Regions from separate parts of the Homo sapiens genome. Here region 1 is linked to region 2. Evidence: fine-mapped expression QTL. Tissue or cell type: whole blood. Region 2 holds a variant in brackets; the other region holds the start of a gene. All regions are shown on one strand. Distances are between the middles of the regions.

Region 1 (8,188 bases), 34 kb after region 2:
TCATAATAGAAGCTTTTCATGTCTCAGGGCTGCCAAATACTGCTAGATTCTTAAGAATAAATTATCTATACCAATATAACCAGAAACTGCATTAGAGGGGATCTGTATGACGTGGCGTATAAAAGAAAAAATTCCCAGATGAAAGAGCGCATATAAGCAAATGAACAAATAAAGAACTCTCATTCAAAGTAATGAATACATTTTGATATCGGAAAGCTTCTCAATCTGTGTCTTTAAAGAAGTTAACTACAACAAAAGCTTCTCAATCTGTTTCTTTAAAGAAGTTAACTACAACATCTTTGAACTACTAACAATTTCCATTTATGTATGACCAGCTCATCTGAACTAAGTGTCAAGATGAAGCTAATTTTAATGCATTTTGTTTTTCTCTGTTATATACATAAAAAAAAAAATCTGGTAACGTATAGGCTATTTAAATGAATTCTTAGAAATTCATAGCAGGCCTCTAGTGGTATGGAGGATATAATGAATTTTATATTTTTTTAAGTACTGGAGTTTTTTTCACAGCAAGGAGGAGGAGTATCACCTGATAATACAGAAAAAAATAGATCACAAATAGATAAGAACCAAAATATTTCTTCAGGATGAGCACTTGGGTTTTAGTGCGTATAAAGAAGTTGGATGGAATGGTTTGGATCAATTTTCATTGACAGCCTTGCTTCCTAGCCACCTATTCTGAAGTGCACTCGATAAAAAGAGAATGTCTACTAAAATGACCTTGTGTCTACACAGCTTACTTCCAGATTACAAGACTCATCTGGCATCACAGGCCAAGCATATTCCATACAACTGGACACATGACAAACTCAGAGCAATTGATTACTATGTTTAGGTTTATACATTCATAAAAAAGTAAAATTTGAACCATCAACATGGCCAAGCACAGATGTTGTTGGCTCTCCCTCAAAAACTTATTGAGGCTTTAGTGTTCTTAATTCTATTACCAAAAAAAAAGCAATTCCAAAAGGAACCATAGAGGAGTTGAAGTCATTAAAAATGAGGAGGCCTTTCTGTTTTAACTTTTCTTACATACATATGCAAACTCAGTTTTACCCTGAAAGATGACATCTAGGAAAAAGTCCATTTTGTAAGCACCTACTGAAAAGAGAACTTTCTGTAGTATTGGCTGACAAAATGCAGTTTATCCCAAACTCTTAAAATTATTACAAACATGGAAGTCTTAACACAGCTCCACTTATTTTAAAAGTTTCTCAAATAGAATATGACCCCCTCACCTTCTTCCAAAAATAGTTAAGTGGAATATTTTAATAATTCATGTCTACAGTTCCCTTTAATAATTTCATTGATTTATTATGATACCAAGGGTATTTCATTTGGAGGTCTAAAATATCCCCTTCTTTGTGACTAAGAGGTAAATGCACATTTGAAGGGGTGATATGCCTTATGTTCTTCGAGCAATGTAATCTGCTGTGTGACATAAATTTTGGCTCTGATCTCACACTGAGGTTTTCACTCCATAGGCACCTGCTTGCAATTTAAATTGAAAGAATCAAAACTTGGTCTTGGATAAAGGAAAGATCCAATTTTCTGTCTGTGTCCTCAACGTAAAACAAAGATTCAATAGTAGTATACAGATTGCCAGAAACCACAGGCTAAAGAGATGTGGCAATTTCCTGAAAGATTTTATGTTTGGGGGGTGGGGGCGGGAGGGGGGCAGGTAGGGTGGAAAGGAGTTGTGGGAGGGGAGAGAGAGACAGAGAGAGAGAGAGAGAGAGAGGAGGGAGAGAGAGAGAGAGAGAGGAGAGAGAGGAGAGAGAGAGAGAGGGAGGGAGGGAGGGAGAGAGAGAGAGAGAGAAGAGAGAGAGGAGAGAGAGAGAGAGGGGGAGGGAGGGAGGGAGGGAGGGAGGGAGGGGGAGAGAGAGAGAGAGAGAGAGAGAGAGAGAGAGAGAGAGAGAGAGAGTCTGCAAGCCCACCATGATGGTCTCTCAAGCCCGCTCAGACATCTGCCCACCATCCACTGCAAGCCTCTTTCAAATGGTCACTTCCTATTATAAGGTTAAACTATAATCAACAAATCCCTTTCTTTCTCCTAACTCAAAACTGTAGTTTCCCATCTCCTTAAAGAAAAGGCACTATCCACCATTTGCTTTCTATTGTTAAAAGGGGCAATGCGTATCTTCTTTTCTTTATGGCACAATTATTAATATTACTCAGAAAGTCCTACCTTTACAAGTTATAATAAGTATCAACATTTATTTGAAATCATACTGTAAAATTTAAAAGGCATCCATATTTATGTTTTATTCTCACAATGACATCTCCAGGTCTTCAAACGGAAGACTACGACACAAATGGCCTGCCTTCACCGTGCTGCAATTTCTTCAACAGGTAACTTGCTTAGCCTGTGCTACGTATTCATACTGCACGTGGATGTCACTGAATGTCCTTTCTCTTCCAATACATATCTGTATCTAAAAGCACACGGTTTGCTTGCAGATTTTCTTCCTTCCCTTCTCCTCCCTATGGGAAGCTGCCCACTCCACCCCGAAAACACTGTCCCCCAAAGCAAGGGGACGCGCTGCACCCTCGGCTGTCACCGCGAGGGCTCGGCGCGCATGCGCGGCGCGAGCGGCCGGGCCCCACAGCCGCAGGTCGTTGGTAAGGCGGGTCCGCGGACCCCAGGTCGAGCCCAGCGGCAGTGCAGGATCGCAAGCGGCCCGGCACCGGCGCCGCAGGTTGTTGGCAAGCCTGGTCCGGGGTTTTAGGTTGAGCCCAAGCGGCAATGCGGGATCGCCACCGGGCCGCGCGGGCTTGGGAGGGTGACGCCCGCGAGGACACTGCGGCGTCCGGGGCGGGCGGGCACACTCACAATTTCAGCATCCACTCGCCCTCCATCACCAGCGTCCAGTTGGAGGCGGTCATGGGCTGGACCCGGCTCTGCTCCGGCGGCAGCGCGGCCTCCTCGGGGCCTGCCGTCGCCGCCACAGCCGCGATCCAGGCGGCCAGGAGCGCCGTTAGCTGCGGGCCGCAGCGCCCACCCGCCATGTTGGGCGCCGAGCGAGGCTTCTCGGCGGGGAGTGTGGGGAAGGGCAGCGGCCGGCCCGCAGCCTCGCTCGCCCGCCGGGTTTTTCAAGGAAGCGGGAGACGCAAGGGCCACCCCGCCTACGCCTAGCGGCGCAGACTGGCGGTGCTCGCAATGCCGCGGAGGACGCCACCTCTTATCGCCGCTTGCCCGTCGAGGCCACGCCCCCTCCCGCCTCCACTTGCCGTTGCCCGGGGTGTCGGTTACCTCAGCAACCACCGCCCTTTCTTCCTGACCGCCAAGCTGACAATAAACAGATGACCCAACGTTGCCTAAGTTAGAACATGCACCGCTGCTGCCCAGGCTCCAATAAGGGCAGGGTTGGCGCGTGTGGGCTTCTCTAAAGGGAAACATGGCCAGTAATTTTAAAATCCATCCCCTCTTCAATGATAGCAAATATAAAAGCAACGGGCTGCAAGGTACACGTATGTTTAATGAAAAATGGAGGGACGTGGTGAGTATCTCCTGCTGAAGAGAGAGGAAAATTTAAGTACTCTGCATGTGTATATTGAAGCATCACTAATTTAGGATATTGATGAAACTAGCCTATGCAATTGCATTTTTTTTACAAAAAATGTTAATTTCATAGAAACTCTTAAAAACATGGGTACTAGCCGATAAAATGAGTCAATTAAGACTATTGCCACCTGCAGTAAAATGGACCTCACATTTCTCTTGACTACAGTTTTGTCAGATCTAAAATGAGGGTAGCCTTAAGTGATTTCCAAATTTCTTTCCAGGTCACATTAGATGAATCTGTACCTTGGGACCACCACACCGTTAATATATAAGACTGGATTACAATTAAAGGATGAGGAAGCTTTCTCAAAGGGTGCTTTGTATGTGTTTACTAGTTGTGCAAACCATGAACCTCGGTAATGTGGTTAATAGACCATGAAAAGGATGTGGTTTCTGCCCTCGGCTTAAAACAAAGACAGCAATAAGACTAAAAGTACTTCAGGGCACATGAGAGCAAATTTCAATCAATACTTATAGGAGAGGGAAGTTAATTTTGCCTGAAGAGAAGATCTGGCCTGCATTATGCATTAATTAGTATTAGCTAAAAACTATGTGGACCTAGCCCTTATCATTAAAATAAAACACTCAAGGGTTTACAAACTATTGAAATTTAAGAAAATGTCTTTGCAATGAATGCTACTAAGACTCACTGTTATTAAGTACATACATATCAATTCCATAAACTCAATGGAAAACATTTTACTGTGCTTGTAAAAAGAAGTGACTCATAAACAGGAATTCTGTCATTTTATCACTTTCATGATAGAATGATGTGTAGAATTTGTTTTACAATGCTCCAGAAATAAAATGTAGGGAATGGAAAGAAGATAGGTGAAAGAAAAGTGGTGCAACATCAGTCAGTGTTGAAGCTAAGTTCATTTTGCTACTTTACCTACTCATGCATATGTTGGAAAATTTACAAAATGAAAAGCTAAAAGGAGAGAGAGCATCTTCAGCATGAAAGACAGCCATTACCAAAGCATTTCCTATCTTTAACAAAAACTGAAGTCTTAGCCTTCAGACTAAGGATGGTAGGAAGAAAGTAGCAAGGAAGTATGGGACTGACCTTGCCGTAAGGAGTCACAGACCAGGGTAAGGGACCTGTTGCTGTCAGACCATGATTGGCATCTTAGCCCTGACACTTCCTAGCCATGTGATTTGGGGCTAAAACTAGTCCACACCAAAGTTCTCTTAAAATGCGGGTAGTAATAGAACCTGCTCCAAAAGGTGGCTGTGAAGATTATATGAGATAAGAATAATGCCTAGCACATATTCTAACTCAAAAAGCTTACATATTAGGTTGGTGCAAACATAATTGTGGTTTTTGCCACAATATTGCCAACACTAATATTATTATTTGGAGGCAACAATACGCTGTAATGTCTATTTTTCTTATACTAAAGTTAACTTCACTTAGCATGATACACAATGCCTCTCACAGCCCAGCTTCAGTTTTGCCCACTTTACATTCCACTATTCCCAGAGTTCCCTGTGTCCTAGTAACACAAAGCTACTCCCCATTCCCAAAGCACATTGTGTACTTCAGTGTCTCCTTGCTCCTTCATTCTGATTAGAACACTCTTCTCCAGTTGTCCAGTGAATCATTCAGTCTCTGTCATGTAGTCCACACTGTACCTCTGATAGCTCATGCAGAATGAGCTGCTGTCTCTTCTCAGATCCAATTGCTCTTCTGTATAACTGATATGGTTTGGCTCTGTGTCCCCATCCAAATCACATTTTGTAGCTCCCCTAATTCCCACGTGTTGTGGGAGGGACCCCATGGGAGATAATTGAATCATGGGGGCGGGTCTTTCCCATGTTGTTCTCGTGATAGTGAATAAGTCTCATGAGATCTGATGGTTTTAAAAATGGTAATTTCCCTGCACAAGCTGTCTCTCTTTTGGCCTGCTGCCATCCGCGTAAGACATGACTTACTCCTCCGTGCCTTCCACCATGATTGTGAGGCTTCCCCAGCCATGAGGAACTGTGAGTTGAATAAACACTTTTTCCTGTATAAATTACCCCGTCTCGGGTATGTCTTTATCAGCAGCGTGAAAATGGACTAATACAATAACTTCACCACATACCTTTCATAGTATAATGCATTTATATGTAGCTATCACCCTCTACCCTCACTCCTCCAACCACTACTAAAAACTCTTCAAGGTCAAGGGCTTTACCTTATATATCTTTGTGTCCCCTGTATTGCAGAATACCCATCCCATAGATGTACTTGGGATAGACAGCTTCTGGCACTCCTCCCAAGATCTCTCCCTCCTGGTATTCAGGCCCTTGTGTGATCCTTTCCTCTTGAGTGTGGGTTGGGCCTGGTGACCCACTTCTAACAGAAGATGGGAAAACTGATGGATTATCACTTCTTTGTTAAGGTTACAAAAACCTGAGACTTCCATTTTGCTGGAAACTTCTTTTCCTCTTGCACACTCACTCTGCGACTCTGTGTGGAGAGCTCCATGTGACAAGGGAGGTCTGCAGCCTAAGCAACTGAGACCTCAGCCCAACAGCCCTCAAAGAACTGGATCTTCAAACAACCACATGAGTGACCTAGAAGCAAATCTGTCACCAGTGCTCTTGAGACGGGTGAGCCTTATAAATGACCCAGAACCAGGGGGCAAAGCTTAGCTTAGCTGGGACCTCCACCCACGGAAACTGTGAGGTAATCAATGTTGTTACATAATATCAAGCCACTAAGATTTGGGGCAATTTGTTATGCTGTAATGCTATGCTAGGTCAGTGTGTGATCCATGTTTATGTTTAAAACGTGGATTTACAGGTTTAAGAAGATTGGTACCTGGTACTAGGAGAAAAGGCTTTTTCCCCCAGAGTGATGGTGGCACTGCAGGGCAGCTATGATTACACAAAAATATGTGGTTCCTAGTAGGCAAAGGAATTCCTAGGCCTCTGATGAGGTAACATCATTAGCAGGAGAGAGGGGAAGAAGAGTGTGGTAGATCCTATCTAGTCCCCCTCTCTTTCCCTGCCCCACAGAGGAGGATGCTCCTACACCCCTCAGAAGTTAGTCATATTTATATGAATTGGCCAATGGGCTACAAATGGAAGGGGTGGGTATGTATCATTTCCAGGCTGAAGTATTTAATCACCGGCACAAAATGTCCCAGTGTTCTGTTCTCCTGCTGTGGAAATTTTAGAGAAAAGATCATGATCTAAGAGTCTACAAGACCAGAGCAGCCTGAATTGCTGAGCTGCCTGGTGGAGAATAGCAGCATTGGGTGGTTCCCAGGATTCTTAAAAGGACTTTACAAAGGTAAGAAATACGTTTTCACTATGAGAGATTATTCAGGTTAACTATTTCTGCCTAATCAACCATCCCAAAACTCACCTCTCATGGTTTTGGGGGTTCAAGAGCTCAGCTGGGCTATATTTGCTTGTACTCTTTTATATGGTGGCAGACCCCTGGAGGCCGAGGCCAGAATTAGTTGAAGTCCCTTGCACCCACATCTGGCACTTAGTGTAGGCTGGCTGGAACAGCTGGGGACTGCACAGGCATTGCTCTTATCCACGCAGTCTCTCCATGTGGCTGGCTTCGGCTTCCTTCAGCATGGCAGTTTGAGGGCTGTCATACTTAATTTCTCTAGAGCAAGAGTTCCCAGAAGGTGGAAACTGCATTGCTCTAGAAGTCTAAGAGTGTCGTTTCTACCTCATTCTATTAGTCAAGGCACTGAAGACACACCAGACTGAAGGGGAGAGGAATTAGACTATCCTTTAATAAGAAGCAGCAAAATAAATTGCAGCCATACTATCAAAAAGCCACTCTGAAAATTTGGAATTGTCACTGAAGCATAGTCTAGCCTATTTTGACTAACTCACTGCCTTCCTTTGAATACTTATTTATGAACAGCTGAGAGTTCTTTATTTTGGAGGGGAGGTGATATTTTCAGAGAGCAGAGTAAGAACTGCCTCTCCGTTTTTACCTTCTGTGAGTAGGTCCTGTAAGATGCATCTTATGCAAAGGTATTGGAGAAAATGATTTTCAAGCCTGTGGGCGGGTAGATGGATTGATGCCTTGGTATTTAAGTGTTCATTAAATGTTACAGAATTTTTGTTAAGCTTATTGAAAAAAAGATTCAAAAGTGTATGTTGAGAATTATGTAAACACACCTATTTTACCCTTGAATAATGGAGTAGGAAAACGATTTACCAAGAGGGATAAAACTTATATTCTAATGGTAGAAAATTTTAATACATAGCTATAGACAATGCCTTTGATAAAAGTAGGTCAGGACTTGATATTAAGAGGATAATCAATGAAAGATAAGGAGATGGTATTCAGATTACAAACTCTGTAATAATAGGGTATAGTTATACAATGGTTTTCCTAACGAAGATGGTAAAACCAGTATGGAAATATTAAATAAGTTAAGCAATGCTGTAAAATTAGTCCATAAAGTAATAATAGTACAAAAATTTAATTACACAAACAGATTTGCTAAATGCCTTACAGGAACAAGAGGTAGAATGGAGAATTTAAATAGGACACAGTAATATTTCCTAGAACAGATGGTAGAAGAAACCATGAATGATGAAAATACACTGAATTGCACCCAGGCTTGTGCCTAGAGACAAATC
Region 2 (8,188 bases):
TCGGTAATCAATTGAGTGTGTTTAGCTGTGAAATAAAAATAGAGGGTAAGTGACAGTTTTTTCTATCTTGAAACTATGGTCATATAGGACAGATTCTCTGGTTGGCATCCTAGCCCCATTTAGGGCTTCTCCACCTGTCTCTGGAGATTTCATGGACCATAATGACTTCAGCAGGGCATGTGGGCAGCAAGGGCAAAGGGTCCTTTACGCTCGGTATTTTGTGTCTTGTAGAAAGCTCAGTGACCCTATTGGTCATGGTGATTGGTTCAGAAATGTGACATGCTAAGCCACTCAAAGTACTCCACAGAGGTTCTGGGCCAGAGTCAGGAGAAACAGCCTCTTTTTCTTCAGGGATTTTTAAACAGAGAAAATGCGCAAGGACTATCAACAGCTCTTATGAATAAGCCACACAGACAGAGAAACCTAACATCACTTGGGCCGTGCTTGAAGCTAGAATGTCCCTGGGCTTTTCAGTTATGTGAGCTAATAAATTTTCATTTGTTTTCCTAAAATCCTTGATATTGGGTTTCTATTACTTTTAAGAAATCTAAGAATCATATTTTCAAATTATCAATGGAAGTCTCAAAGCCTCAAAAACTTCAAGAACTAAAAAGAAACATGAGCTTATTTAAACTCCCACATAAAATTCAACAATTAGAAAGTCTCATGAACATCTTTATGCAGTCTCAAAAATAGTCTGGAATAAAGACATGCAAATCCAGAGGCACCTGGCCCCAGAAGAAGTGTGGAGCAGTGCAAGGATTTGGGAAGACTGCTTTTAAAGGACTTAGAAGAGTTACTAGCACACAGCAGAAGCAATATATATTGAGTTTCCCTTCTTCCCTTCTAGTTCTAGTTAGAATAAAGGAAAATATGACACTGATTAATGAAGAGCACATACTTAAAAAGAAAAAGCAATTGCCAAAATGAAATATTTCCTAATTTAAGAAAGGGAGAAAAATAATTTTGTTCAAATCTACCTAGAAAACACATTTTAAGAAATTTGGTAGTGATTATTTGGTCACCTAGTAAATCACAGAGAAAACCCACTATCTATATGAGCACAAAAAGGCACATCACAGAATTCCAAAAACACTCTAGATCACAGGAGCTTATCGTACTTACCAGAACGCTCAGATAAATGCCTTGGAAGTGGCACATAGAAACATTCTGATATTACCACCAAGACCTGGAAGGAAAAAAGTGATTTTACAGTGAATAGATAGGACATTTATTACCAAAGGACCTCAAAATTAGGCCTTGCTTCTATAATCAGATATTCTTAGACTAATAATTAGCAGCTAGTCAAAAGTCTTCACAAGAGACAAGGATATAATTAAGAATTTCCTACTTTTCAAATGTGACATAATACAGGAAAATATTAATTTAGAAAGTGGTCACAAAGCCAAAAGTCTACAGAGAACCCACTATAAATAGATGAACCAAGCAGGTATAAGAAGATAGACACTATGAACCAAGTCTTTTTAAATACACTATTCTGGACAACCAAACCACTCTGTATATAGGCTGCCCCTCACCAACGGGTAACCCCTGATTGAATGGAAGAACATTTCACAAATGTTACAGCCAGCTGTGGGTGGGGAAGGATTGAGGATGACTTTGAAGGAGGAGGCATTTAATGCCCTGGGCAGTCAGGAGAGAACAGCAGCACCGCCTGGCTGCTCTAAGCTAAACTAAGTTGGATCTCCATGGGGGTCTTGGATCCAGAGAAAGCCCTGAATGTCAAACTGAGGAGACCCAGGAGGTGGGGCAATGAGTTGCAGGAAGGCTTGGTGGGTTGGAGAACAATAAGCTCTAAGCCATTAAATCAATTTGAACAACAAAGAGAAAAAAAAACATTCCATCTGAAATGATTCAGGTTTGAAAACCTTACCTTTTAATGTGATAGTTATATGCTTACTGGCTATTCTAGGACATAATGTTTCTTTCTGACTTTTCTTTTTTATTTATAATTGACACACAGTAACTATATATACTGATGGGGTACAATGTGATGTTTCAATGCATGTATTACAGTATAATGATCAAATCAGTGTAATTACCATATCCATCATCTTAATTTATCCTACTCTTCTATTCTGGAAAATTGTACACTCAACAATTTTATCTCAGGTTTAGTCTATCTAATTTACTCATTTAATTTTGACTCAGTTGGTGAGATTACAAAAAAAAAAAATTTGGATCCTAGCTTCCCAACAGACATGTCATCCTTCAAGGAGTCTGGGCCATTCAGAGCCAGCCTCAGGCAGCTTTGTCCCCCAGTATTCCTTTACCCTGGCATGCTACGTAAATATTCTCTATGTGGCTAAGACATGAAAACAATTGACAAACACTTTTCTATCATCCTAGAAGTTAACAAAAATGTCATTCTGGAATAGGTGATTTAAATTGGGATAAGAATGCAGCTGTTTCAAATTGTGTAACTCTCACAAAACAGAAGTTGAAAGTACATAAGAAATTAAAGGTTACTAAAAGCAAAAATTCTAGCAGTTGTGTGTTTACTTTAATATACTTAACAGTTATAGAAAAGGCATTCTGTGTGTGTGTGTATATATATGTGTGTGTGTGTATATATATATATATATATATTTTTTTTTTTTTTGAGACAGGGTCTAGCTCTGTCACCCAGGCTGGAGTACAGTGGCAAGATTATGGCTCACAGCAGCCTCGAACTCCTGGGCTCAAGTGATCCTCCCACCTCAGCCTCCCGAGTAGCTGGGACTACAGGTGTGTGCCACCATGCCAGGCTAATTTTTGTATTTTTGTAGAGACAGGGTTTTACCATGTTGCCAAGGCTGGTCTCAAACTCCTGGGCTCAAATGATCCACCTGCCTCAGCCTCCCAGAGTGCCAGGATTACAGGCCTGAGCCACTGTGCCCAGCCTAAAACAGGTACTTTGAACACAGATATGTGTTTGTTATTTTTTGGAAACTTATTAACAGTAAATGTATGAATCTTTTATAATTTATGATTCATATGCTTTGAAATTATTATTTCGTTAATAAAGTTAATAATATTTTGTTAAATAAAGTTATTTTCTTATTAAGGAAGGGTAGTCTATCTCACTTAATCACTTGAACAGGCTAGAATCACTCTCTCCTTTCTTCAGGCCAAGCCTCCAATAACCTTTCTACACTGATTATCTGAATCTAGGTTTCCAAAGGAATCTAAGGCATAGGCAGGCAGGCCTGACTCAATTTCATGGACTTAAAGTCAACATCAAAAATAATATTCTAAAACTCTAAGCATTTTCACTAGTCTTCCAACAGGGTCACACACAACCTACATTCCCTATAACTCCATCATTGACTCGCCTGGGACCTCATACTGTTTCCCCCTACAAGAACCTCACACTATGGTAGCCCCAAAATACACTGCTAGAAAAATCTCGCACCAGACAACAGATGGGAGAAGCACAGACAATCACATTCTATTTATATCCGGTGTCAAATCCCTTTAGACGGGAGCAATGGGGACATGTTAATTAGCAAAAAGATTAATGCAACAGAACAGAACATACCCAGGACCTAATGAAGGACATATACAGATATCTAAGTAAGTCCCATTCTTATCCCTGAAGTTAACATCAGGAGCCAAGTTTCAAAGATAAGCCATGATATGTATTAAGCATGTTCATAGAAAAGTCAAATCGAGCCTCCTTGGCCTCTTGGGGTTGTGACTTACTATAAGTCAATTGTTAACATTTTTAAAAAGAACTTGCTAAAGAGCCAAAATTCATTATAAAATATAAGGACAGACTTTAAGATAATCTTACCTTAAAGTCTGTTCTTTGACATAAATTTTTAGTAATCATCAATTATTCCCATTATAGTGTTTAGGAACTATGTGTTTAGTATACAATATAAAGGTTTTTAAAAACTTTTTGGTTTAATTAGGGTTTAAAATGCAATCAAACTAATCAAGATTAGGTTAAGAGAAATAAAAAATAACAAGAAGTACAACATGCTGAACATTTATAGTTGCCTATGTAGTTAGATAAATAAATTTATTATTCAACTCTTGCCTGAAATACCTGGGGAGAAAATACCTGGGGAGATATATACTGCATACTGATTTTCATGCCCAAAGAATAATTGTGTTGTGTTAACTACATTATCTATCTCAGGAAAACCAGAGTGTATGCATAAGCGGCTAGTCAGGATTAGTTTAACTGGAGGATAAGAACAACAACAACAACAATCTTGCATCTACACAAGGAACAAATTCAAAACCTTGGCCTTATCACTACAGTGTTTCTAATTAAGCAGGCAATGTGTGAAATCACAGCTGACTCAGTTGTCTTAGAAACTATCAATTCTAGTAAGGTCTCTTTTTTTTTTTTTTTTTAATTACTGTCTATAGGCAGTACACATCTTCAAAATACTTAAGGGATAGGATTAGGGGATAAGAATTTAATAAATTTTCTGTTATATCTCACATTACCATTGAAAGCAGTCTCAAACAAGCAAATGCTATTTAACTACTTAGATTGCACAAAATACTATTTTTTATGTGCTTTTTCTTTCTTGGCTGCCTTTTATTTGTACATGAAATTCATTTTGCCTTAAAGATAGAAAAAGTTTGGTATTATCTCTTACCAGACCCATAAAAAGGCCAAAAACCAAGGTGGCTATGACGAAAAA[G/C]ACATAAGAACACCAAGCAGGAATTCCAAGAGTCACTGTGAAATAGTTGTGAAGATGCTGGAATCAGAAGAAAAAAAATAAAACATTAATTTTTAAGAGAACCAAAAATATTTCAATCTCTCTCTCTAGCTGTTGTTTCTACATACATAGGTTCCCACAAAGCTTTATGTATCTAAATGATTCTTAAAGAACAAGTCAATTTTATAATATTGGGAAACTGAGAGTAGTAATTAAGGTCATTACTAAAAAAAAAGTTATACTTGCTTAGAGTTCATAATCTGGATAGAATTCTGGTAGAATCGTTTTGATAGTCCTTTCTTCCATCATGATGGATGCTTTTGGCCCTCCTCCCCTAATAATTATATACATCTCAATGTTTACTTATAATAGGGCATTCATGAAAAAATTAAACTTTTTGGGCCTCTGACTTTTTAGTAAAACTAAATTACGACTTACAGAACGTCAATCATTTAAAATGTCTCCATACCTCTTTTTCCTAATTAGACTCTCATTGCTCTACACCTATTCATCCTTTCAAAGTTTGGTAAATTACCAGAAAACATAAAATGTAACAGTAGACAGAAGAAAGTTTTTCTGATTAATTTATTATGAGCAAATGAGATTCCAGCAGTCTTTGAATAGAGTGTATATCCCTTCATGCTTACTGTTCCCTAAGACTCTATTTGATGACAAACACTCTAAAAATGAGTGAAGGGACATAATCACAGCTAGAAAGTATTTACATGCTAAATCATAAAGAAATTAACAGATATGAACTTGCTATTTCAAAGTCAAAACCTACTTAGATGTAGAGTTGCAGGAGCCATGCTTCCTCACAATCACTTAGTCATTTGTTCAAGACCCTGACAGCTTCAAAAATGGCCATTAAAATTCAAGTAACTACTGGACACAGGATGATATGGCTCCAAATATCATCAGCAAGAGAGGTAATGACAATGACTTCCCTAGAACCAGTAAGGTTGATGAAAATGAGTCCAAGTTTCTATTTTAATTTCCTATTTCTCAAAATCTAAATCACTCCCATTGGTTTCTTAGTTTATGTCAATGCAATTAAAAAACATATTTTATTCTGGCTTAATTTGGAATGATAAATAAAGAACAAAGCTTGTAAACTGATTTAGCAAAATCTGAAATATCTCTCTACAATTTCTTATTCAGCAGAAGAGATAGAGCTAAAGACGCAGCAAGTAGTTTAAACACTGACACATGGAATCAAAGTGTTCAATCAGTATTTGTTGAATAAGGAAAAGATGCATCAAATGCCTGAGCTATTTATTCATACGAAAGGCAAACACACTCTCAAACTGTAAAGCTGGCATCTGTCCTCTGTTGATGGCACTGGTCATCAGTGTGTGTTTAGCCAGGACAACTGTTTATTAAGAGTAACTTGGCTGGACACGGTGACTCATGCCTGTAATCCCAGCACTTTGGGAGGCCGAGGCGGGCAGATCACGAAGTCAGGAGTTCGAGACCAGCCTGACCAACATGGTGAAACCCTGTTTCTACTAAAAATACAAAAATCAGCTGGGCGTAGTGGCAAGCGCCTATAATCCTAGCTACTCAGGGGATTGAGGCAGGAGAATTGCTTGAACCCCGGAGGCAGAGGGAGTGGGCTGAGATTGCGCCACTGCACTCCAGCCTGGGTGACAGGGCAAGACTCCGTCTCAAGAAAAAAAAAAAAAAAGTAACTTAGCATTTTACAACTCAGCAAGCAAAAGGCGTGTTTGAGATATCAAAACATCATTTCATTCAAACTCTTTTCAAAGAAAGTTTTAAAATTTACTGTATAGTTTCCTACTTTAGAAAATACTGTGTATTAAGCTTATGCTTTTCTCGGAGGACTCAGTATCATCAATATTAAACCCGGAAATGTGCCAAAGAATTAGAAGATGGTCAAAGTCAATCTGCCTCTGTGTCAACCCATGAATGTATTTTAGAACTTGCTTTATAAGTATCTGCTGATTTATCTTACTCATATGGTTAGGAAAAATAATGTGCAGTTTTAAGTCCTTCTATACAGTATCTCATGCCCTTTCTGCAAAATAAATGATTAATGCAACTCTCAAGAAACTTTCTAAATTATTTTTAAATTTCATTAAATCATTTGCTTTTGAAGCATTGCATTCTGACTCAAACACTTAGTACTTTCAAAACATCCTCTTATTTTAATAAGCTGCACTTCAATTTTCTTGTATCAATTTCCTCTTTAACGGAATTTGAGTTTCTTGGAGAAACTCTGCCATCTTCTGGTCTTTTAGGTCATTATTAGTAACTATTCATTAATCAGGTTGTACTTTCACAACTACAGATATAAATATTTATCTGTCTACTTTGTCTGAGTCTACAACAGCTTTAAAGCCCCTTATGAGTGTTAGGATTAGTGGTACCATGTCCTTGAAGTTTTGCTTTATATATGTTTCCAAAGGAATAGCTTATTAAATAAAATCCAATTCAGTTTTAGATCATTGTGTTTCTGTTTCTTTAACTACCAGGCAAAGTGACAGTTTTCACTTGTGGAAAATACTGATCCTTATTCAATATTATATGTGCTTACCACAAGGAAATATCCCATGCTGTTCGCTGAAAATGCACAAAAATGTAAACTGATGGGCATGATACCTTATACTATGGTACTAGATGAATAAGAAAGTATCTTACTCGGGCTGGGCGCGGTGGCTCACACCTGTAATCCCAGCACTTTGGAAGGCCGAGGCGGGTGAATCACGAGGTCAGGAGTTCGAGACCAGCCTGGCCAATATGGTGAAACCCTGTCTCTAACAAAAATACAAAAATTAGTGGGGCTTGGTGGCAGGCGCCTGTAGTCCCAGCTATTTGGGAGACTGGGGCAGGAGAATTGCTTGAACACGGTAGGCGGAGGTTGCAGTGAGCTGAGATCGCCCCACTGCACTCCAGCCTGGGTGACACAGTGAGACTCTGCCTCAAAAAAAAAAAAAATCTTAGTCTGTTCACTGAAAATGCACTAAAATGTCATCTGATGGGTGTGACACCTTATACTATCATAGTACATGATTAAGTTAGAGCTAACTTTTGGCTACATACATATTTGAGTGAGAAGATGAAATTAAAACATCATTACAACAGAATAAATGAGAAGAGCATTCTAATCAGTGGTCAGACAGACTTAAGGAAGACAGCCAAGCCAAGGCCTCCATGCATCTGAGGTAGAGCCTTCCCTCCCCAGAAAGGCAAGCACTCCCTCTGGAAGTCTAAACTACTGCAGGTTGGATTAAATACTACTTAGTCACACCCACTCATCCAGCCCAGTGTTGCAGAGTCTCATTCAAACCTAGACTGGCCCTGAAGGACAGAGAGCCTTTGGATTTAGAGTTCACCTGTGTCATAGGATATACTCTCTGAGGAGTTCTGGAACAAGCCCTTTATCTCTTTCAGACACAGATCAGAATCCCCAAAATATCTTCCCTGCAAGGAAACAGCTAGAAAAGACTCTTCAATGATGGCCAAGGGTTCACCTCTTTCATGCT

Evidence for each region. PIP is the estimated chance that this variant, and not a neighbour inherited with it, causes the effect.
Region 1: TMX4 starts here. The variant in region 2 is fine-mapped to the expression of TMX4 in whole blood (INTERVAL, PIP 0.96).

The regions. Positions count from the first base shown.
Region 1 is chr20:8,016,587-8,024,774 of GRCh38, forward strand. It overlaps TMX4 (thioredoxin related transmembrane protein 4), which reads right to left and starts at 3,175. Exons shown (of 8, transcript NM_021156.4): 1 at 2,852-3,175. The coding sequence starts at 3,027. It overlaps TMX4-AS1 (TMX4 antisense RNA 1), which reads left to right and starts at 3,320. Exons shown (of 7, transcript NR_184034.1): 1 at 3,320-3,518; 2 at 3,805-4,675; 3 at 5,473-5,569; 4 at 5,795-5,863; 5 at 5,971-6,181; 6 at 6,685-6,866. RefSeq lists silencers at 2,686-2,825, 2,936-3,175.
Region 2 is chr20:7,982,669-7,990,856 of GRCh38, forward strand. It overlaps TMX4 (thioredoxin related transmembrane protein 4), which reads right to left. Exons shown (of 8, transcript NM_021156.4): 6 at 4,620-4,721; 7 at 1,126-1,189. Among named protein-coding and RNA genes, the nearest start is that of TMX4, 33 kb to the right of the region's middle. RefSeq lists an enhancer at 1,488-2,105. The variant G/C (reference allele first, on the strand shown) is at 4,665.